Linked DNA regions of Homo sapiens: regions 1, 2 and 4 are each linked to region 3. Evidence: fine-mapped expression QTL. A gene starts in region 3. Each other region holds a variant in brackets. All regions are shown on one strand. Distances are between the middles of the regions.

The links. PIP is the estimated chance that this variant, and not a neighbour inherited with it, causes the effect. A credible set is the group of variants that fine-mapping cannot tell apart.
Region 1: its variant is the best candidate, but not a certain one, in a credible set for the expression of GORASP1 in tibial nerve (GTEx, PIP 0.54).
Region 2: its variant is the best candidate, but not a certain one, in a credible set for the expression of GORASP1 in liver (GTEx, PIP 0.88).
Region 4: its variant is the best candidate, but not a certain one, in a credible set for the expression of GORASP1 in neutrophils (BLUEPRINT, PIP 0.72).

What each region holds. Positions count from the first base shown.
Region 1 is chr3:38,981,513-38,987,218 of GRCh38, forward strand. All of the region lies in intron 2 of SCN11A (sodium voltage-gated channel alpha subunit 11), which reads right to left. Among named protein-coding and RNA genes, the nearest start is that of SCN11A, 68 kb to the right of the region's middle. The variant C/T (reference allele first, on the strand shown) is at 2,540.
Region 2 is chr3:38,276,088-38,281,793 of GRCh38, forward strand. It overlaps SLC22A13 (solute carrier family 22 member 13), which reads left to right. Exons shown (of 10, transcript NM_004256.4): 7 at 1-9; 8 at 200-308; 9 at 825-1,040; 10 at 1,285-2,670. The coding sequence ends at 1,378. It also overlaps a transcript of SLC22A14 not described here. Among named protein-coding and RNA genes, the nearest start is that of SLC22A14, 3.4 kb to the right of the region's middle. The variant G/A (reference allele first, on the strand shown) is at 2,331.
Region 3 is chr3:39,105,175-39,110,745 of GRCh38, forward strand. GORASP1 (golgi reassembly stacking protein 1) reads right to left here and starts at 2,453. Exons shown (of 9, transcript NM_031899.4): 1 at 2,305-2,453. The coding sequence starts at 2,367. TTC21A (tetratricopeptide repeat domain 21A) reads left to right here and starts at 2,506. Exons shown (of 29, transcript NM_001366900.1): 1 at 2,506-2,690; 2 at 3,911-4,040; 3 at 4,855-4,965. The coding sequence starts at 2,664. RefSeq lists a silencer at 2,083-2,402.
Region 4 is chr3:39,412,223-39,417,842 of GRCh38, forward strand. It overlaps RPSA (ribosomal protein SA), which reads left to right. Exons shown (of 7, transcript NM_002295.6): 7 at 52-320. The coding sequence ends at 146. Among named protein-coding and RNA genes, the nearest start is that of SNORA62, 4.0 kb to the left of the region's middle. The variant A/G (reference allele first, on the strand shown) is at 2,012.

The sequences.
Region 1 (5,706 bases), 120 kb before region 3:
TGTTTCTGTGTTGTGTGTGTGTGTTTGTGTGTGTGTGTGTGTGTGTGTGTGTGTGTATTCCTCATCCGTGGTCTCAGGAAAGAGCAGCAGACATCTGATTTATGGCAAATTTTTTAGACAAAGTGCCATAGTAGCCATCCCAAGGCCAAGCATGAATCTAGCACCAGGGCAATCCACAGGGAGAATTCCAGTTCAAAAAACATAAGGGAGAGCCTGGCACAGTGGCTCACTCCTGTAATCCCAGCACTTTGGGAGGCTGAGGCAGGCGGATCACCTGAGGTCAGGAGTTTGAGACCAGCCTGGCCAACATAGCAAAATCCTGTTCTATTAAAAATACAAAAATTAGCCGGGCATGGTGGCAGGCACCTGTAGTCCCAGCTACTCAGGAGACTGAGACATGAGAATCACTTGAACCCAGGAGGCAGAGGTTGCAGTGAGCCAAGATCCCAAGGTCATGCCACTGTGCTCCAGCCTGAGCAACAGAGTGAGACTCTGTCTCAAAAAAAAAAAACAAAACAAAAAGCAAAAAGAAAAAAACAAAAACAGACAAACAAAACCACAAGGGACAAGTGTGGCCCCATCCAGCCTCAGGTGTTCCAGTGAGCCGAATGAAGCTGACACGTAGTGCAAAAGGAGATGGCATTAACTTAGAACTGTGGGATTGAGCAAAAGATGAAAGTACCAACTTGGGCCAACCCTGGCCTGTTTGGAACTGGGAGTACTAAGGGGGAAATGACAGTCCCTGCTGCCTACTCTGTGGGACCACATCTGGACCACTACAGGATGCAGAATTCCTGGAACTTTTACTGGGTGTAAAGCGCATTTGTTTCCACAGAGCAAGAGGAAATTAGCTTCATTCTCAACAAAGTGCACAAGTCTTCCTGGCCCACTAAGGCATCCTTTTTTCTTAATGGTTTAATGGGCCCTGGGTAAACAGTGGGTGAGCCCCTGACTTAAATGGAAAGGTCTGAGATTATGTAATACAGCCCTGCCGAGCTAATAAGGCAGGGTGGGGAGCTGCTTCAGAGCTATTGCTTTTATACGAACAACCCAGTGGATTGTTTTACTGGAACAAGCTTTGACATAGGTTTCATTTACTAAGGGAGGAAAATTTCTCTGAAAGTAGGGAATCAGCAGACATAATATATGAAAGATACAGTGGTGAAGCAGCATATAGTTAGTTAAAATGTGTCATGCTACACAGTGACAATGGTGATGGCTCAAGGATGGGGTGGGGGTCAGGAAAGGAAAACCAGGAAGGAAGAACTGTGGACCCAGGGTCAGGATCCTGGGCTGTCATGTAACATCTTCCAATAAATGTGATCTTGGGGGAGACCATTTTGGGCCTTGGTTTCCACATCTGCGAAATGTTATTATAGCCATGAACACTTACTGAAAGCTTACCCCATATGCCAGACACATCTTCCAATCAACTTATGTGAGTTATCTCATTTAATTTTCACAACAATACAAAGTAGCGGGGAAAACTTCTGGCTTCTCTTGAAAACTCAGAAAATCTAACAATGTTGAGTATGAGTCCAAAATGTCAGCAAGAAGCCAGAGCTGAATAGGGAAGGCTGTTTTAGATGAGACCATTAGCCACAGACCTCACCACTCTTCTTACTGTGCTACTTATTTCCTTTATAGTACCTGAGTGGTTCCTGCTGCGTGTGGGTTTGTGGCCCCTGCATTAGATGGCCTTCATGATTCCTCTTCACCCCTGAGCTTTGATGTTTTTTGCTCCATGTCACCTTCACCAGAGTGGTCAGGCCATTCTTCAATATTCAGACCTAGGCAAAAGGTGCATGACTTTGAACTCCCCTAGTTAAGTTAAGGCTTCTAGAAAGAACAGGCTTTGGGAGCTGAGGAAGGGTGCTCACTGTGCCCTATAAAATAGAGTTTCAATAGACACTGGGTCCTCTGTGGCCTGACCTCCCCTGTGTCAGCAACTTGAGTCTCACTTGAATGGGGAAAGAAAGTAATAGAGAAATGAACAAGGAAATTCTGAAACCCTCAAGACAAACAAGGACCCTCCTATCATTAAGGTAAAGCCAAGTGTGACCCTAAGGCAAGTTACTTAACCTCTGCGTCTCAGTTTCCTCATCTATAAGTTAATGACAACCTCTACCCCATAAGGGAGCTTGAAAGAAAATCCAAAAAAGAAAGAATCTCTTTGAGTTGCTAATGACTCTTAAGTTTCTGGTTCTAGTCCTTTGACCATCATGACAGTCCTATGGTTTTACGAAAGAACTATCCATCTCTATTTAAAAAACAAAAAACACAAAGACCTTTTTTGCTTAAGCTAACTTGTGTTGGGTTTCATCCACCAGGAAGTTAGAGAGAGAAATTACTTAGAGATAAACTTACACATTACAAATCCTTCTGTTCTGTGTGCTTTTAAAAATGTTCAATTTCTAAATGGGCCTCTGGTGAAGATAATGATCACCTCATTGATTTGTTCCCAGGAGAACAGGGTAAAATGAAGTCCTGCTGATCACATTTCTAAATCTTTTTAGTCCCATTGCTTTGGGAAAGTTTC[C/T]ACACCAGTCATCCTTCTACAGCCTCCCTCTTTCCCACTGTTCCTTCTCTGCAACCACCAGGAAAGGAGGAATCCCAGAGCAGTCTTGCTCCATGACCATCAGGTCCTTTTCACTCATAATCCTCTTAGACCACATTCTCTAGGAATGTACTCATTCTTCAATGGGTGCCTCCACTGAGGAAGGTGCCCTATTCATCTGGAGACCAACATGTTCAGAGCTGCTAGTATCTGCCTCCTTCTGGCTCTTCAACATTGCATTCAATCTAAAGAGCTCCCCCTACCTTCCCATAATTGTTATTTTAGTTTAAATAAGAAAGAGCTGGTTTCTGTTGTTTGCAACCCAAGAACCCTAAATCCAATATGGCACCTTAGTGGTGAGGACAAGGGGGTAGATGGTAAAAGGGAGATATTGATATTGAATTGTCAAGGAAAGCCTTTCTGAGGAGGTGAAATTTGTGCTGAGCTTTTTTTTTTTTGAGACAAAGCCACACTCCTGTCCCCCAGGCTGGAGTGCAATGTCATGATCTTGGCTCACTACAACCTCTGCTTCTCAGGTTCAAACAATTCTCCAGCCTCAGCCTCCCAAGTAGCTGGGATTACAGGTACCTGCCACCATGCCCGGCTAATTTTTGTATTTTTAGTAGAGACGGGGTTTCACCATGTTGGCCAGGCTGGTCTCAAACTCCTGCCCTCAGGTGATCCGCCCACCTTGGCCTCCCAACGTGCTGGGATTACAGGCGTGAGCCACTGTGCCTGGCTGAAATTCGTGTTGAGCTTTCAATGAAGGCACGCGAAAGTCTGGGGGAGGGAACATTCCAAGAAAATAAGAGCAAATGCAAAGACCTTGACTCAGAAACACATTCAAGGGCAGTGAGGAGGCCAGTGTGACTAGAGTTGAGTGAATGAGCAAGCATAGTAGGAGATGAGGCAGAGATGTAGGCAGGGGCTGGATTATGTATGGTCACTAGGCTGCAGCAGACTATTTCAGTTTTGTGATACAATGAAAGCCACAGGAGGGCTTAAACAGAGGATGACATATTCGGATTTTTTAAAAAAATGTCTTTCTGGCTGGCTGTCTTTTTTTTTTTTTTTTTGAGACAGAGTCTTGCTCTGTTGCCCAGGCTGGAGTGCAGTGGCGCAGTCTCAGCTCACTGCAAGCTCTGCCTCCCGGGTTTATGCCATTCTCCTGCCTTAGCCTCCCGAGTAGCTGGGACTACAGGCACCCGCCACTACGCCCGGCTAATTTTTTTTTGTATTTTTAGTAGAGACGGGGTTTCACCGTGTTAGCCAGGATGGTCTCGATCTCCTGACCTCGTGATCCACCCATCTCGGCCTCCCAAAGTGCTGGGATTACAGGCGTGAGCCACCGCACCCGGCCTGCTGGCTGTCTTAAGAATCAACTGTTAGGGACAGGTGTAAAAATGAAAAGATCAGTGGGGACACTGTTGCAGGAGTGCAGGCTGGAGGTGACCATGGCTTGGGTGTGAGCTATGGCAGTGAAGATGGAGAAAGGCAGATAGATTTGTGAAACCATTTCAAGAAAAAGCTGTCTTACATAATTTGCTGATGTGGATTGTGAGGGGAAGAGTATAATCAAGGCTGAGTCTTGGATTTTGGACTGAACAACAGCATAAATGCATTTGCCATTTGCTGGGATGGTGAAAACTAGAAGAGACATGTTGTTTAAAGTATTAGTCATCTACTGCTGTGTAAGAAATGACCTCAAAACTTAGTGGCTTAAAATAGCCATAAGTGTTTACCATCTCACAGTTTCTATGGGTCATGAATTCCAGAATGGATTAGCTGGGTTCCTCCAGCTCATGATCTCTCCTGAGGTTGCAGTCAAGATGTTAGCTAGTTGGTCTTGGTTGGGACTAAAGGGTCTGCTTTGCAGGTGGCTCACTCATGAGGCAAGGTTGTACTGGCCATTGGTGGGAAACTGCCATTTCTCCCTACCGGGACCTTTCCACAGTCTGTTTGAGTGTCCTATACAAGTGATGTAAGAAAGTAAGGCAAAAGCCACAATGTCTAGCTTTGGAAGTCACACTTTTTGATTTGCACAATATCCTGTTAGTTATACAGATCAGCTGCCTTCATTGTGGGAGGAGACTACACATGGGCATGAATACTAGGAGCTGAGAATCACTAGAGGCCATTTCAATGGACCGTCACCACACCATCCACACTGCTGCCAGAAGGAAGTGCCGACAGAGCCAGCAGATGCGTCAGGGAGGCCAGTCTAATAAAGAGGAACTGAAGAATATGCAGGAATAGGAGTGGAATGATCAGTTTCAGAGAGATACAAATGGATCAAAGGGAATGATTCCAGACACATGGAATGGAGACTTCAGTGGAGCTGGGTGTTCCCCATTGAAGTGTGAGCTGAGCTGGACAGACCCTGCTTCTGCCTTACATACTGAGTGGCCCACCAGGCTTTATGAACGGTGATGCAGTGAGGTGACCACAAGAAAGAAGAGGGAACCCCGAAACTGAAGATGTAAAAAGAAATCAATCCAGGCTGCTAATCAGGTTTAAGATGCAAGTATCTCTCCCTCCCTCCTTCTCTCTCTCTCTCTGTGTGTGTGTGTTGTTGTTGTTGTTGTTGTATTGAGTGGGAGTAGAGTTGGGGAATGAGCCAGAGATCAACCATGTTGGAGAGGAACAAACAAAGGACAAGGAGGCATTGAAATATGGGGCAGATCCATACAATACTGATACAACCAAGTGGAAGTCCTGCAATTAACCCTGCGATTTTTGCAGCCTGGCCATGCAGAGCACAGCTTTGTGTTTGAGGTTTGTACTGAGTCTCTTGGAGCAAGGATCTATAGAGCCACATGTCATTTTCCAGCTGTGAGACCACTTTCCCCTTGACAGGTCAAGGTGGAATTCAGTCCCCTGCATTTTTGTACCCCTACCCGTTTCTTTCCGCACCTGGACAACTACAGCAAGACCAGTAGAGACACATCCCATTGAGAAACACAAGGCTCTGCCTACCACACACACACAAGTGTTTAATGTGAAACCACCCCAAACACAGTACATAGTGACTAATGCGCAGTAAAAGACAGAAGCTGAGTATCTTTGGAAGGGAGGATGGGAAAATTAACATCACAGGCATTCATCCATCTCTCCTCTTTCCTGTCCTGTCCTGTCCTCTTTTCATCGCT
Region 2 (5,706 bases), 830 kb before region 3:
TCCCAGCAGGTATCAGGGCTGGCTATCCCTCACCCGCATGCCCCCTCACCCACCGGCTGCCAGGGGCTAGACCAGTGGCCATTGTTCTGCTTCCAGGAGTAAAGGCTTCCCGGGGGTTTGGGTACAGAAGGGGTGGGGAGTTCCAGTGGATGGGACCGGCGTCAGGGCCCAGGTGATGGGGCTGTCTACCCTCTGCCAGATCTGCCCGTGGTGGTCACCATGCTGGCTGTGGTGGGGAAGATGGCCACAGCTGCTGCCTTTACCATCTCCTATGTGTACTCTGCCGAGCTTTTCCCCACCATCCTCCGGTAAGAGCTGCAGTGTGACTCCTGCTCCTCTGCTACTGAGATGCTGATTTGGCTGTCCCTCCTCGGCCCTCACCCCATTCCACAAATAGCTGACAGGGCTGGCTCTGGGGCAGCAGTGCTGGGCAGGGTCCAGGACAACTAGAAATCTAGCCCAAGCCCTCAAGTTGTCCCCAGAATGGTGGAGGACAGACAGGCAAGTAGGCCATGCCCTGGCGGTCAGGACAGGAATATGGGACACATCTAAGAATGAATGGCCACAGAGAAGGAGCACTTGGGGTGGAAGAGTGGTAAGGATGTGCAGCCTCTGACCTGAGACTTGACAGGCGAGCAGGGGTGTAGCAGGCAGGGAGCAGGGTTGGAGGCAGGAGCAGAGAGCAGGAACGCTGGCTGGGCTGGGTGAGGCTGGAGACCCTGCAGACCTTTGAGGTCTGGACTCTCCCGAGGAAATATACTAGGGTGAAGCTGAGGCCCAGAGTTGGGCCCAGGTCTACTTAGCTTGCCCTGGTCTTCCCCCAGGCAGACAGGCATGGGGCTGGTGGGCATCTTCTCACGGATCGGGGGCATCCTCACACCACTTGTGATCCTGCTGGGAGAGTACCACGCTGCCCTCCCCATGCTCATCTACGGCAGCCTCCCCATCGTGGCCGGCCTGCTGTGCACCCTGCTGCCAGAGACGCATGGCCAGGGCCTGAAAGACACCCTCCAGGACCTGGAGCTGGGGCCTCACCCACGGTGAGCTGCTTGCTTGCACTGAAACCACGACTTGGGTCTCACATTGGCCACGCACTCTATATGCCCAGGCCTCCACCTCATCACTCGTCCACTGTTGCCTAGAGGCTAATATGGGGTCCTCCAGAACCACAGACATCTGGCTGGCTTTAGTTCAGATTCCCCTTACTTTGAGGAGGGAGGTGGTGAGGACACTGTCATGGGACCAATTCCTGGGCAGCCAATGACAGCCTTCTGCTCCCTCTAGGTCCCCCAAATCAGTGCCCTCAGAGAAGGAAACAGAGGCCAAGGGAAGAACTTCCAGCCCGGGAGTGGCCTTTGTGAGCAGCACATACTTCTGATTGAGGTCTCTAAGAGCTGGACCATCAGCAGCAGGGAGCTGCCTAAACACCTCCTTGGATATGGCCAGGACCCACAGGGACACAGGGCAAGACCAGCCTTGCTTATGGAGGCAGGACACCACAATCTGGCCCATGGCTGTCACCTCCTGCCGAGTCCAATCCCAGACTGGGAACCACCATCTGAGACAGGACCTCCCGGCCTCCTTCACCTTTCTCATCTCCAGAGCCCTGCCCCCAATACTCTGTCTGGGTTAGGATCTTGGGTATGTCTTGGAATTAACTTGTCCTCTAACAATCTTCATGGGGTATGGCTCTCTTGATCTCCTCAATCTGGAGTCCCCTGCCCTCAAAACACAGTGATGTTCAGAACAGAACACAAGGTAAGCCCTTTCCAATTTGTGGGAACAGGAGGGGAGAGGAAACAAATGTGAAGTTGTGGACTCTACCCAGGCAGGTGGATGAAAATGCTGTGGATAAAAGGAAGGTTATGATTCCTTCTAGCGGATGGACCAGATTCCTCTGGCTAACGTATGGCCCCATAGGTCACTGGGTCATACAGAGAGAAGATTCAGTTCAGCCTAAATCAAAACTTCCACCTTGTGTTCACTTCAAAGATGGCCCAACCCCCGCCCTACACTCAGCTCATGCCTAACCTATGTGTGGCTCAGGGACCAGCTTGGGGAAGGAAAGGAGGTTTGTTCTGCTCCCCGCCTCACCCCGCCTCCTCCTGCTCATGCTCAGCTGCTTCTGGACCTTCCAGGGCCCATGCAGGGTGAGGGAAAGGGTAGAGGTCTTTTCACCGAGCTGCTGCTGGTTGCAGTTCTTTCTGGTGCACATTGGCTAATGCCAGTTGGTGTGTTTTGTCAGGCTTCTGAAAGCTGCCTTTTCCACGGGCCATCTTCTTGGGCTTCTCAGAGATCTTCTCAGGCCTTGGTATTGTTCCTTAGAATGA[G/A]CAATATGCTCCCAATGCACTCCCAGCTCCTCTTGGGACCCTTCTCCAGCCCCACCCAGCATTGCTCCTACAACCTGTCCTACAGCTGGCAGCCCCTGACCCAACCAAGATGGCCTTCTTGGCTGGGCGTGGTGGTTCATGCCTGTAATCCCAGCACTTTGGGAGGCTGAGGCGGGCGGATTACCTGAGGTCAGGAATTTGAGACCAGCCTGGCTGGCATGGCAAAACCCTGTCTCTACTAAAAATACAAAAATTAGCCCTATATGGTGGTGCATGCCTGTAATCCCAGCTACTTGGGAGGCTGAGGCAGGAGAATCGCTTGAACCTGGGAGGCGGAGTTTGCAGTGAGCCAAGATCGCACCACTGCACTTCAACCTGGGCAACAGAAAGAGACTCTATCTCAAAAAAAAAAAAAAAAAAAAAAGATGGCCTTCTTAGATGGGCGCCCATAAAGAGACCTCAAGCCGGACTGCCTTCCTCAGCACCTCCTTAGCCTGCAAGAACACCATATATCATTGTGTCACCAAATGGTAGATAGAAAAAGAGCTTGCCTGGCCACTGCCCCTGCCTTGCCCCAGCTAACCTCCCACTAGGGAGAAGGTTTCAGTCTCTCTTCTCACAGGCACCCCAGCTTGCTCACCTTCTCCTGCATGGCTGGTTCGGGGTTGGGCGTAGATGCTGGACCAGTTTCCTGTAAACCCAGCATGGAAGTGTTCAGCACCTGTCTTCCAAACACATGGATATTCCTCACTCACGATTCTCAGCTTTGAAGTGCTAGACAAAAGCTCTATTTAGCTTCCTACTGTGTGCCCATTCATGGCATCCTCTTGGGGAATACTAGCAAGTCTTTCTGGGCACAATGTGTCTCTCAGGCTGAAACTGCCAAGGGGTGCGGAAAACCAGATAGAAGTGGGGAAAGGGCCATTTCCCAGCTAAAGGCAGTTTCCTCCTCTAAGATATGGACACTTGCTCCCTTTAAGACGGAATGATTGTCATTCCCAGGAAGAGACCTGAATGGCCAAGACTGGCTAATTTTTGTATTTTTGGTAGAGATGGGGTTTTGCCAAGTTGGCCAGGCTGGTCTCAAACTCCTGAACTCGTGATCCGCCCACCTCGGCCTCCCAAAGTATTGGGATTACAGGCATGAGCCACCATGCCTGGTCCCTGGAGACTTTTTCTTTCCTTTTTGGGGGGATTATGGTTGGTTGGGGAGAAAGATTTTTTTTTTTTTCTGTGTGTATTTAAAAGTGTCCTGTGGTTTGCTCTGATGAATGGGTAAGTGTCCTTTAGCAGTCACTGATGGGAGGTTGGCTGCTGAGGCCTCTGGGACTCTGAAGGAGAAGATATGCAGCTTCACTGGACCCTGGTTGTGTATCTCCTTGATTTTGCTCCTCAAAGGTTACGGCAATGGTGACTATCAGTCCTAAACATTTAGTCCAGGTGTGTGAAAGCGAAACTGTGCCCCAAACAGTTAAAGACACCAATGACTAACAGAAATTCTTGAGTTTGCAGGATGGTAGGTAAGCAAAGAAACAACTTGCTGAGATGCTGAAAGTCCCTCCACTTGTAAGACAACAAAGCTGGCTAAAATAGGTTGGAACCAATGTGGCCAACTAGAGTCTGTGCAGTACCTGCTTGCTGACATCACAGCCTGAATTTCCACTGCGTGTTTCATACTCACTCCCCCCGTACCTGCCCATGTGATCTATGAGGTGTCATGAAGAGAACTGCGCATGCTGGAGGACTTTCCAGGCCTCCTCTTTCCTTCCACTAATCACCTGCTAATCTCAGAATCCCGACACCTTTTCTAATAAAAACACTGCCTTAGCACCAGCCCAGGGAGACAGATTCAAGCTGGACTCCTGTCTCCGTGTCGGCCGGCCTATAATTACAAGCTTTTCTTTTCTCAAAAACCCGGTGTCATCATATTGGCTTCTAGCACATTGAACAGCAAGCCCCTTTCTGCCTAGAAACAATCTGACCCTCATATTTACTAGTTTTCTCAACCTGTAACCAAGGGAAACAAAAATGACCTCCTAAATTTTTAACAAAGGCAATCAACATTTGTAGCTGGTATGAATATTTGTTCTGTAAACTCATATCTGCAGGCAACAGAATGTTTCTTTAGCCTATGAGCCTCCATCTTGCTGAGCTGATTGGAAATTCATCTCAGCTGTTATTGGGGCTCTTCTCAACCCAGAGAGTTCTGGGATCTTTTTTTTTTTTTTTGAAAAGGAGTCTCAGTTTGTCACCCAGGCTGGAGTGCAGTGGTGCAATTCTCTGCTCACCGCAACTTCTGCCTCCTGGGTTCAAGCGATTCTCTTGCCTCAGCTTCCCGAGTAACTGGGATTACAGGTGTGCGCCACTGCGCCAGGCTAATTTTTGTATTTTTAGTAGAGACAGGGTTTTGCCATGTTGGCCAGGCTGGTCTTGAACTCCTGACCTCAGGTGATCCGTCTGCCTCAGCCTCCCAAAGTGCTGGGATTACAGGCGTGAGCCACCATGCCCAGCCGAGTTCTGGGATCTTATGTAACCAAAACAAACCAAAACAAAGGGGTGCTCCCACCCTGCTCTTCAGTCTCACTGATGGCTTCTGGGTGCTCACTGTGCTGTCTGCTTGGTCCCTTTGACCCCCAGAGTGCTGCTGCTCAAGAGTGGGGAACTCTAGGGGGGATGAGGGGCCTAGGACCAACCACTGAGGTGACCTGCAGACACCCCGAGGGAGGTCTGGTGAAAGAGGAAGGATCTGATGCCCCAGATACCAATAAGATTGCAGTGCCCTGCCCCCAAACAAGTGAAGATTGAGCCATAGGAAACTGCAAAAGAGCTGTAAGTAGGTTTCCCTGTGATCAATACTTCATTTTTTTTCAAATATATGAAATTCTTTTAATTTTTTTTTGTGTCTTAAGTGTCTGTGTTAGTCCATTTTCTGTTGCTTATAACAGACTGCTTGAAACTGAGTTATTTATAAAGAAAAGAAATTTATTTCTTACAGTTCTGGAGGCTGGGAAGTCCAAGGTTTAGGGAATACATCTGGTAAGGGCCTTCTTGCTGTTGGGAACTCTGCAGTCTCCCAAGGGGGCACAGGTGAGGGAACCGAGCAAGCTAGCTTGTCTTTCTTCCTCTTGTTATAAAGTCACCAGTCCCATTCTCATAACTCATTAACCCATTAATCTACTAATCCATGATTGGTGATTCATGGATTAACAGATTACACTCATGACCCAATTACATCTTAAAGGCCCCATCACGCTACCACACTGGAGATGAAGTTTCAACATGAGTTTTGGAGAGGACAAATATTAAGCCATAGCAATGCTCTAATTTTGTTGAGGTCCTAAGTACATGCTGTACTGGTACAAGGATGGTCTGCCTT
Region 3 (5,571 bases):
TCATCACTACTCACTATGGCTCCGCAGCTGAAATAATCTATGCTGCTGCCCACTGTACGGCTCCCCCTGCAGAAACCACTGCCTGCCATCCAGCTCCCTCAGGGGCTCCCATCACAGCCTGCCCCAAGGCCCTATAGTGCTGCTTTTCCTCATGCTCCCACCCTATTTTTCCCAATCAGGGAACCTAATGGAACTCACAGTGATCACAACTTACACTTACTAAGGGCTGGTTGGCTGAGTGCCAGGGCATGGCACCACCTCACCTGCTTTATGTGTCATTTAACCTTTTTAATAACCTCAAATGACAAATGAGACCAAGTACTCAATAATTCAGTAATTTGACCCCAGGAAATCCAACCCAGAGCCCTCCCCCTAACCACTGCCCTCTCCTAACAGCTGTTTCCTGGTGAATCTGCCACTACTCTAAGCTCGCTGAGGGCAGCGACTTCTCCAAAGTATTGGGCACGCAGCGAGGTGCCAATATTTCTAGAATGCAGCACAGCTGTTCTTCAGTGTTGTTAAAGGTAAGTAGGTCATGTCACTCCTCCATTTAAAACCTCCTGATGGTTTTACATCTCAGAATAAAATCTTAAATCTTCAGGACAACAGGCAAGGTCCTACACGGTCTGCTCTGGTCTCCTCCTCACACTGGCCACACCATCCAAGCACACCAGCCTCACCTGGCATTTCCTCAAACACACAAGCACAACCTACCTCGGGGCCTCTGCACAAGCTGGTCCTTCTGCCTGGAATACTACTATTCCCCTAAATATCTGTATTGTCCACTCTTTACTTCCTTCAGAAGCATCTGTTCGAATGTGACTTGAGAAGAGGCCCTTCCTGACCACTCTATCAAAAATAGCACCCACTCACCATTCTGTATCCCCTTAACCTGCTTTATTTTTATCACTGGTAATTACCACCTACCATGTATTTTTTCATTTCCCTTCTTTCCCTACCATCATCCAAATGTCAGCTCCAGAACAGGGACCATGTTTGTTCTGTTCACTGCTTTATCTCTAGAGCCTTAGAATTCTGCCTGCCAGAGTAGGAGCTCAAAACTTTGTTTTTGTGACTGACAACCTCTGATCCCTGGTCCCTCTCCAATTTGTCCCTCTCCATCAGGCAGGCCCCTCCCGTCTTCGAAGCTCCCATCATCGCCCCACCCCTCCTCTTGCCAATATCCTGAGTTCCTTTGCCTTTAATCAAACCTGTTGGAAGACGCTCCTGGCTGGATGCATTCCACTGTCCACGCTTGCTGTTTGGTGTCTCACCATAAGAAAGCCCATTCCCAAGCACAAATCCTGTCAACTCTGGGTTCTCCAAGCCAGCCTGGTTTTCACGTTAAGAAACTTTTAGCCCTCTCATGTGGTTAGCTGGCAACAGACCCTACCTTCAAAACACACAAACCGACAAGCTTGCCTGTCTCCACTCATCTCTGCATCCAGCTGCCTTTCACTAGGGAAAGGGGGGGTGCAGGGACGCCTCTTCCCCGCAGCGCTCCGGGGTCAGAGACCCCCAGCCCCTCTCACCTACATTATAGCCCTTCCCTCACCGCAGGCACAAATCTCCATCCGGCTGCGGGACCCTCTCCTCACCCTCACAGCACACTCCGTTCTAGGAACCCCACTCCGTCTCCACTCTCCGGAAGCCTGCTCGCCCAGACCTCCATGTAGCGGCATCTAAAGGCTGGGACCCTCCCCAGCTGCAAACGCTCTCCTCGAGGATTCTGCAGCACTCTCCCGGCCCTCCCGCTCCCCACTATCCCGTGGCTGGTTTGCACCGGTCCTCTACCCTCGGAAGCCCTTACGACCCTACGACTGGCAGGACGCGCGCCGACGGGCTCCCCCGCAGCTGCGTCCACTCGGTTAACCCCGGCCCCCGGGACTGTCCTCGGCGTGGCTGACTCTCTTCCCAGGCCCAGCACGGAGAGCGGCCCGCGGCAGGCGAGCGTAAATGTGTGCTAAGTGCACGAGTGCGTCCCGACTGGTAGTGGTGCATTCTTCACCCGGGAGGAGCGCCATTCCCGGCGGCCGGACCAGGAAAACGCTCCGCTTCCGGCACTGCTGGCACTTGGGGCGGGCGCTGGGCCCGACCGCGGCCGCGGACTAGCCAGGGTCCGGGAGTCCCGCGAGGCCGCCTCTCCCAGGAGGCTCCCACCGGGCAGGGGGCACCTCCCGCCACCCAGGCGGAAACACTCGGGCCGGGACCCCGCCGCAGTCGCCAGCCAGCCGGCGACCGGACGCCCGGGCGCGGGGTTGCGGGCGCCTCGCCAAGGTCACCGGCGCCGCGGCGGCAACTCACCCCGTGGAGGTGGAAGCCCTCGGCGCCGCCTGCGGGCTGCTCAGCGCTGACGCCCAGGCCCATGGCAGCGGCTCCGCTCGGCACCCAGGTCCAGTCCCGCTGCGCCTACCCGGACCGACCCGACGCCAGTAGCACCGACTCGCTCTCTCGGCGCTCGATTCCTGCGCCTTGTGACGTGAGGCGTTTTGTTCCTCCCACTCCAGACACTGGACGCTCCTAGCAACCGGCTAGCAGCTCGGTTTCCAAGGACTGTAACGCCTTCAACCGCCCGCCGCGATAGAGTGCCCACGACCCTGCCTCGGGAATCCCGCTCTGCACCGCCCCACCAGACCCGGACTCGGAGCCGCGAGCGGCCCGAGATGAGCAGCAATGACTCCTCCCTTATGGTGCGTGGCCCGGGCGCTGTCCGAGGGCTCCCTCGTGACTCCCCGCCCCTGACCCAGAGACCGTCTGCCCTGCTACTCTCCTGCCACCCTTCGCTGTCCTCAGTTATATCAGGCGGTCCTGCCTTTTCTTGCCCCACTCCCCCTGGCAAGGGCGTCTTCTCCGGTGGCTTCTGCGCACCCTGAGCCCCAAATTAGCATCCCCGTTTCTTGAGCTACCCCAAACCAGCTCATCCAATCACTATCATTATCCCTTCTTGTCATCATCCCTTCTTCCACCCAGCTCACTCTCGCCTGCGCCTCCCACCCCAGTTGATGGCTTCACCATTTAATCTCCTAGCCTTAACTCATACCTCTTCCCTATACTCATCTTCTAATCCTGTCTACAAGAAATGCCAGCTCCTTGATGTCTCCTGGGTTTTCTTTTTATCTTTTTATCTTCTAGCCCAGAACCAGCACCATCTCTCCCCCCTGAGAGCCTGCAACAGCCTCCCTCCCATCTGGTTTCTCTGCTGTGGCTCTTTTCAGCATCAGTAGTCCCTGCTGCCACCACGGCACACACCCCCCACATGCAAAAGCAGCCAGAGTGGTTGTTGCAAAAATGTACATCTGAAAACATCCCTCGCCTTAAAACCATTCTGCTTTCTGTTACCCTTAGGATGGTGTCTGGGCTCTTTCATATGGCCCATGAGGATGTTTACAGTCCAACCACATCTGCTCCCAACCTAGCACCCACAAACCTTAGAGGAAGTGAAACTTAACTTTAAAATCTCAGCCCCTTTGTCAAGCTGTAGTTTCCATGGGCTTAAGCTTCCTTAGCTGTGAAAGATACTGAGAGGACCATGCACAGGATAGTGGATATGAAGCCCACAATAACTTGTAACTACAATTCGTATAATTTTTCTTATTATTTGTCCTCATTTTTCCCCCCTTATTCCCTTCCTAAGACAAAGCCTTGGTTGAATTCCCCATCATAGTTGAACCAGAATCTGTTGGTAATCCCCCAAACAAACACCTCCAAACTCTTTCCTGGGAAAACTGCATGGAGCTGCTCCCAGGGCTGTTAGAGGACAGGATGAGGCCTGAATGTTTCCTCTTTCTCTTCCCTTTGCAGAACTGAGGAGGAGCAGGGGATAGGGAAGGGAGCAGGTCTCATCCCATCTGGGACAGAACAGAGACAGAGAAGGGACTGGGCTATTGCAGTTATGTCTTCCTTCATACAGGCTGGGATCATTTACTATAGCCAGGAAAAGTACTTCCACCATGTGCAGCAGGCTGCAGCTGTGGGCCTGGAAAAATTCAGCAATGACCCTGTGTTGAAGTTCTTTAAAGCCTATGGAGTCCTCAAAGAAGGTAAGGACTTGGCAGTGTTGGTCTTGTGACCCCAGGCACTAGCTGGGCCCTAACACTCTGGCTCCACCTGGATGCCTTCTTGTATCCTAGTTATGGTCCCATAAAAACAGTTTCACACTCAGCGGCTGGATTCCCACGGGAATCCACAGAGGCCTACGTAATCCATATCTAGTTGACTTTTGAGACCTCAGAGCGCTGACTATCCCTGCTCTGCACCTCGGGTTCCCTCTCTGTAAAATGAGTGGTTGGAGAGATAGCTGCATGATTCTTGAAGTAATTCCAGGCCTGGAAGCTGAGAACTGGTAATGCAGGCAAAGGAGGGGGAAGAGGTAGGTGTGAGGACAGGTGGGTATGGTACAGGTACAGGGAGAGGAGTGAGACCCATGCAGGTGCAGATGGGCTGACATTCAGAAGGTGGTCCTAGGCTGAGGACTGGCAGAATAGCCCATGGCCAAATGTCTGAGGACATGGAGGGATAAATGTAATCAGTGGCTCTTGAGCAGTAGCTGAGAATGCCCTGCCTGAGGTCCTTCTTCAGAACTGACGCAGCTAATAATTGCAGCCTCACACATATCCCCACAAGTACTCACAGGGTGAACCTTTCAAGTCCAAGATTTCCAGCCCCTAACAGCCTGGACCATGTTACCAGCAACTCTTTCAAAGAGCCCCAATCTTCAGGGAACTTGGGTCACTGGGGACCTTTCAGACCAGTTAGTCCAGCAGGTAGTAGTGCTGAGCTGTTGGGTCAGCTACAGAGTCTCATGTCCTCTAGTCCTGGAGCTTGAGAGTATAACTATGTGGACTGTCTTTGCAGAGCACATCCAGGATGCCATCAGTGACCTGGAAAGCATCAGGCATCACCCAGACGTGTCCCTGTGCTCCACCATGGCCCTCATTTATGCTCACAAAAGATGTGAAATCATTGGTGAGTGCCACCATGCTCAACCAGGCCTGACCCACCAGGGGAAGGAAAGCCCTGCCCCAGAGATAACACAGCCCCTCAAGGGCTGCCAAAGGAGGTATGTGCCCTGGTGGCTGTGCAGATGCTGTTAACCAGTGAGAAGTGGCTGCTGCTCCTCTCCCCCTGGAGGCCTGGGAGAAGACTCCATGCCTGGGCCCAACTGAGTGGAAGCAGGCAGAGCCCATGACAGTGGGAGGGGCCCATGCTCCAGATCCCAAGAGTTGGGGAAACACCCTTCTTCTTTGCCAAGATCTTGTCAGAAAAACCAAGCCAATATATATAATTCTACCCCTAATCTCCACATTTCTAGAGTCAGGGAGAGGGTCCAAGAGAGACTACAGACTACTATTTCCCTACTCACAATAAGTTGTGGGCCTGAGGCTAAGGATTTTGGTTTGGCCTGCCTGCTCAGCACACTGCTGGGCACAGAGAAGAGAAGGTAATCTCAGACAGCACACGTGAGTCCACACCAGGGCAGCCCCTGCAGCATCTCAAGGGCAGGTACTGCTGGTTTCCAGGCCTTGGGCTGCATGCGGTGTGCTGCATATGTTGAAGGAGATCCACAGTGTC
Region 4 (5,620 bases), 310 kb after region 3:
ATACTACATTGAGGACAGAGCTGATGGCTTTTTTTGGTATTCTCTTAACAGAAGACTGGAGCGCTCAGCCTGCCACGGAAGACTGGTCTGCAGCTCCCACTGCTCAGGCCACTGAATGGGTAGGAGCAACCACTGACTGGTCTTAAGCTGTTCTTGCATAGGCTCTTAAGCAGCATGGAAAAATGGTTGATGGAAAATAAACATCAGTTTCTAAAAGTTGTCTTCATTTAGTTTGCTTTTTACTCCAGATCAGAATACCTGGGATTGCATATCAAAGCATAATAATAAATACATGTCTCGACATGAGTTGTACTTCTAAAGCCCACTGTAGATAGTGTATATTGCTTTTCACTTCAGAATTTCCCTGAGCTTCCTTCCTGTGTGGAGAACATGTGTGCTGTGAAAATAGATGTAAGTGGTTACACATACTTAGTTGGTAACCTCAGGAATACTTTTCCGAGGCCCTGATGATCTTGCTTTTATTACCATTTGCGTAGGTAAGTTCTATAGAGCTTAGGTTTTTATTTTTGAGAGTCTTCCTGTCACTTAGGTTAACTATTCCTGGAAGCCCTGGAGAGGCGATGGTCCTTCCCCACATTGAGAGACATTAATTGCCCCTCTTGTCAGCTTGCCTACAGGTTCTGGGAGAGGAGAGGTATGTATGTATTTAAAAATGTGATGTTCTCCATATTTGTCTTTGCCGGGGAGGGGGTTGGGGAGACAGTCTTTCCCTGTTGCCCAGGCTGGAGTACAGTGGCGTGATCTCAGTTCACTGCAACCTCTGCCTCCTGGGTTCAAGCGATTCTTGTGCCTCAGGCTCCTTCGTAGCTGGGATTTCAGGTGTGCACTGCCACACCTAGCTAATTTTTGTATTTGTAGTAGAGATGGTTCTGCCAGGCTGGTCTCCAACTCCTGGCCTCATGTGACCCGCCCCAAAATGCTGGGATTACAGGCCTGAGCCTGACCATATTTGTTTTTTATGTATTAATGCTGGTGGCTTCATCCTAAACGGATTTCAAGATTTTCATTGCCTATTAAAAAAATACTCGTGGCTGTCATGTTGGCTCACCCATGATCCCAGCACTTTGGGAGGCAGAGGCAAAGCGATTGCTTGAGCTCAGGAGTTCAGGACCAGCCTGGGCAATGTGGTAAAACCCCATCTCTCTCCAAAAGATACAAAAAATTGGCAGGGTGTGATGGCATACTCCTGTAGTACCTCAGCTACACAGGAGACTGAGGTGGGAGAATCACCTGAGGCCAGGAGTTGGAGGCTGCAGTGAGCTGTGATTGAGCCCCTGTATACTCTAGCCTGGGTGACGAAGTGAGGCCCTGTCTCAAAAAGATTATAGAGACATTTCCATAGATTGGATTGAATGCAGATTTTGAGATGGCCTGAACTGATTTACATGGATTCATACATTCTCTTGGAAAATTTACAAAATACATGTACATGTGACCACATTCCTAGGGCTCCTTCCGGTGGTGCTGAGGCAATGGGAACACTGCAGCCTCAAGCATTGTCTTCATGGGAAGCCTGCTTATGGCTGTAAGCGAGGCTGGGAAAATCTGCCCTATAATGTCTCCAAGTTGAATGGCATTCAGTGAGATTTATGGATCCTGAAGTTGCAAGTGGTTAGCAACACTGGTAGAGATTGCTGGAATCAGGATGGTGGGAAGCAGGGACAGTTTACCAGAAGGCTACTGGTCAACAGGGGAGTTGGAGAAGCATTGCGAGGTGGTGTGAGCCTGGAGTAAGGTATACTAAGCTCATTTATGAGCGGGTTCTGGGTGGAGTCTGTTCAGCGAACAGAGAACCTTGGCATTTCTGGACACTTGAAGATACTGTGGAAAACATCCGTTGTGACTATCCAGCAACCTCCAGGATTACCCCATCTTACTGGGGTCCCATGCAAACCCAGCCTCTCCATAGACTTGTGTCCTAGTGCCAAGCACCTCCAATCAGGAGACCTTGGTAGCATTCTCAAAGCAGTTCCAGAAAGTCTCTTTTTCT[A/G]GATTCTGAGGTTAGGGAGGAGGTAGTCTCCCTTGGCAGGGTTCATTCATGTTCAGCTAAGTGGAAGCCAGCAAATACTAGAGGGGATTTCTCTCAGACCCACTCAGCTGGGGTTAGCCTTCCCTGACAGGCCTTAACCTTTTTATAACCTTGTATATCTGAAAATAGGATCCTCTCCCCAACTCCACTCCCCTGGCCCTGTACCATATCACCAACTGCTAGTGGATTCTGGCTCAGGTTTGGGATCACCATGCTCTCATGGGACCCAGCAGCTGCCCATGGCCACAGAGTCAGTGTCCCCAAGCTGTCACCATCTGGAATAGCCATCTTAAACTAGCCAGTTCAAACAGTTTTCTCTTGCCTGGTGGTGCCCACCTGATGTAGGGCAGCTCATAAGCACTGCTGAATCAGTGACAATCTGTGCCCCCTGGGTGTTCAGCAGCCTGCTACTAGTAACTTACCCCCAGTGGTGTTTGCAGAATTGAGTCTTCCTGACTCAATTCCTAGCATGAGGCCATTTTTAAGGTGAGGGAGAAGCCGTTGCCTCCTTCACTGCTAGGCACTGCTCTTGCTTTGGCCCTGTGAGCCGCCTCCCTTCTTGCCCTGGCACATCTCCATTTCCTTCTACACAGGAATTGCATTTCTCTCAGTAAGTTATTCAATTTCCTTGTTCAGCCTGATCTTACAAATGTAGCTTGCTCTAAATATTTTACTTGTTCACAACTTCAAGCTCTTCATACACTTTTGGGCAGTTTGTCTTCTATGCTTAATAGAAACTGAATCCCACACAGAACTCTAGTTTTCCTCTACTTTCCTAAGTAGCTTAGGGACTCCTTTCTTAGGACTGTGTGCAATAAACACATTTTTTCTAGTACATTCCTAGTATGAGGGCAAATCTGAGCATCCTCATTGGAATCAGCCTATCACAAAAGCTGGCACTTGGTAAATGCTAGTAAGTACTGAGTGAAAAGAAAAAGTTAAGAATAAATCTGAGGGCCAGGTGGCTCATGCCTGTAATCTCAGCACTTTGGGAGACCGAGGTGGGCGGGTCACCTGAGGACAGGAGTTTGAGACCAACCTGGCCAAAATGGAGAAACCCCATCTCTACTAAAAATACAAAAAATTAGCCAGGCCTGGTGGTGTGTGCCTGTAATCCCAGCTACTCAGGAAGCTGAGGCAGGAGAATCGCTTAAATCTGGGAGGTGGAGTTTGCAGTGAGCCGAGATCCTGCCATTGCACTCCAGCCTGGGCAACAGAGCAAAACTGTCTCAAAAAAATCAATCAATCAATAAATCGGAGGCTGAGTGCAGTAGCTCATGTTTGTAATCCCAGCACTTTGGGAGGCTGAGGTAAGAGGATCACTTGAGGCCTGGAGTTTAAGACCAGACTGGGCAACATAGCAAGACCCCATGTCTACAAAAAATTTTAAAAATTAGCTGGGTGTGGTGGTGTGCACCTGGTTCCCAGCTACTTGGGGGCCTGAGGCAGGAGGATCACTTGGGCCCAGGAGTTGGAGGCAGCAGTGAGTTGTGAGTGCCACCACACTCCAGCCTAGGCAACAGAGCAAAACTGACTCAAAAAAAAAAAAAAAAAAAGGATAAATCAAGAGACTTAATGTTAATATTCAAAAAAAGTGGGAGAGGTAAGTTTCATTTGGCAAACCTGAAGCTCCCAACAGGATTCAAGGTGCCCACTCTTGCTTGTTGTTCAGGAGCACATCAGCATGATTAACGGGTGGCCACATCACCTGCTCTCAACTTGGGTGTTTGATCAAGTTCCCTGCTTGGTCAAAGACAACAGCTTCACATAGTGTTTTGAGAATGCACTGCACTCCCTGAGGTCAGCTTGGGTGTGGTCTCCTGGTGTGCTAGTTGGTGTAGTTGGGACTGGGTCTGGTCTGCGCCATGGCCCAGCACCAAGGACACCTTTGCATAACCAGTTGTCCTGTGAAGGGACTGGCCCACTGTCACCATTGAGATGATGGGCTGCATAGTGAGGTGGATAGTGTGGGCTGCAGAATTGGACATACTGGGGTGATGACAGCCCTGCTTGGGCCACTCCTAGTGTGTGGTTCTGGGCAAGGGACTATGTCTCTAGCCCAAGTGGCCTCACCATCAAATGGGATGATTGTGGGCTGCTGTGATTCATTGAGATCATCCTGCACAGCAATTAGTCTGGGTTTGGCATGTAGTGAATACTGCTCGTATGCATTGCATTGTCTTTCCTTAGTACTTACTTTAAAAATAATTTTTATGTAAAATGGATCATACATGCAGATAGTTTAAGAGACATATCCATGCATTCTTAAAGAGTAAGAATCAAGTTAAAGCCTCTGCAACTGTGATGCAGGTTATGAAAGGGAAAAGTGCCGGGACCAGAGAAAGCATCTGTGTGTCCCTCCCTGCTCCTCTCAGGTCAGAGAGCTCCTGCTCCTGTGATAAACTGGTTGACTTTATTGTTTCCCCACTTACGTTTGTGCTTTTAATCATGAATTATTTAATTTTCCTGTTTTTGAGCTTCCCATAAATGGAATCTTAGCACGTCTTCTGTGTGATCTGCTTCTTTCCCTCAATATTGTCTCTGCTTTTTGTTTTCTTTTTTGAGACAGAGTCTCTGTTGCCCAGGCTGGAGTGCAGTGGTGTGATCATGGCTCTCTGCAGCCTTTACCTACTGGGCTCAAACGATCCTCCCACCTCAGTCTTTCAAGTAGCTGGGATTACAGGTGCGTGTCACCATGCTCAGCCAATTAAAAAATTTTTTTTTTGTAGAGAGGAGGGTTCACTATATTGCCCAGGCTGGTCTCAAACTCCTGAGCTCAAGTGACCTTTCTGTTTCAGCCTGGGACTATAGGCATGAGCCACTGTGGCCCACCATTTGGAACATTTTTGATAGATCCTTGTGCAAAGTTTTCCCCTGTCGGTTTTAAACTCTAGTTTCACCAGATAACGTCAAATGGTTTCGCAATCACATATAAAATCCTACAAAAACATAGCCATAACCTGTGGGCAGCAAGCCACCCAGGTGCCAAGGCAAGAGACCAAGGATGTGAGCTGTTCCAGTATAATAAAATATAAAATAAGAATAGTTATACCAGATATAGATCTTAGATATGATTATATATGAATATCATTAATCATTAGTTTGTAGCAATTACTCTTTATTCCAATATTATAATAATCCTCGCTCTATAATCATAACCTAGGAAAAACCAGGCCGTACAGAGATAGGAGCTGAGGGGACATAGTGAGACGTGACCAGAAGACAAGAGTGCGAGCCTTCTGTTATGCCCAGACAGGGCCACCAGAGGGCTCCTTGGTCTAGCGGTAACGCCAGCGTCTGGGAAGACTCCTGTTGCCAAGTGAACTGTAGTCTAGTGGTAGCCTCAGTGTCAAGGAAAAACACCCGCTACTTAGCAGACCGGGAAAGGGAGTCTCCCTTTCCCCAGGGGAGTTTAGAGAAGACTCTACTCCTCCACCTCTTGTGGAAGCAGGCCTGCCTGCAGTTATCCGGAGGCCTAACCGTCTCCCTGTGATGCTGTGGCTGTGCTTCAGTGGTCACGCTCCTAGTCTGCCTTCATGTTCCATCTTGTACACCTTGCTCTGCCTTTTA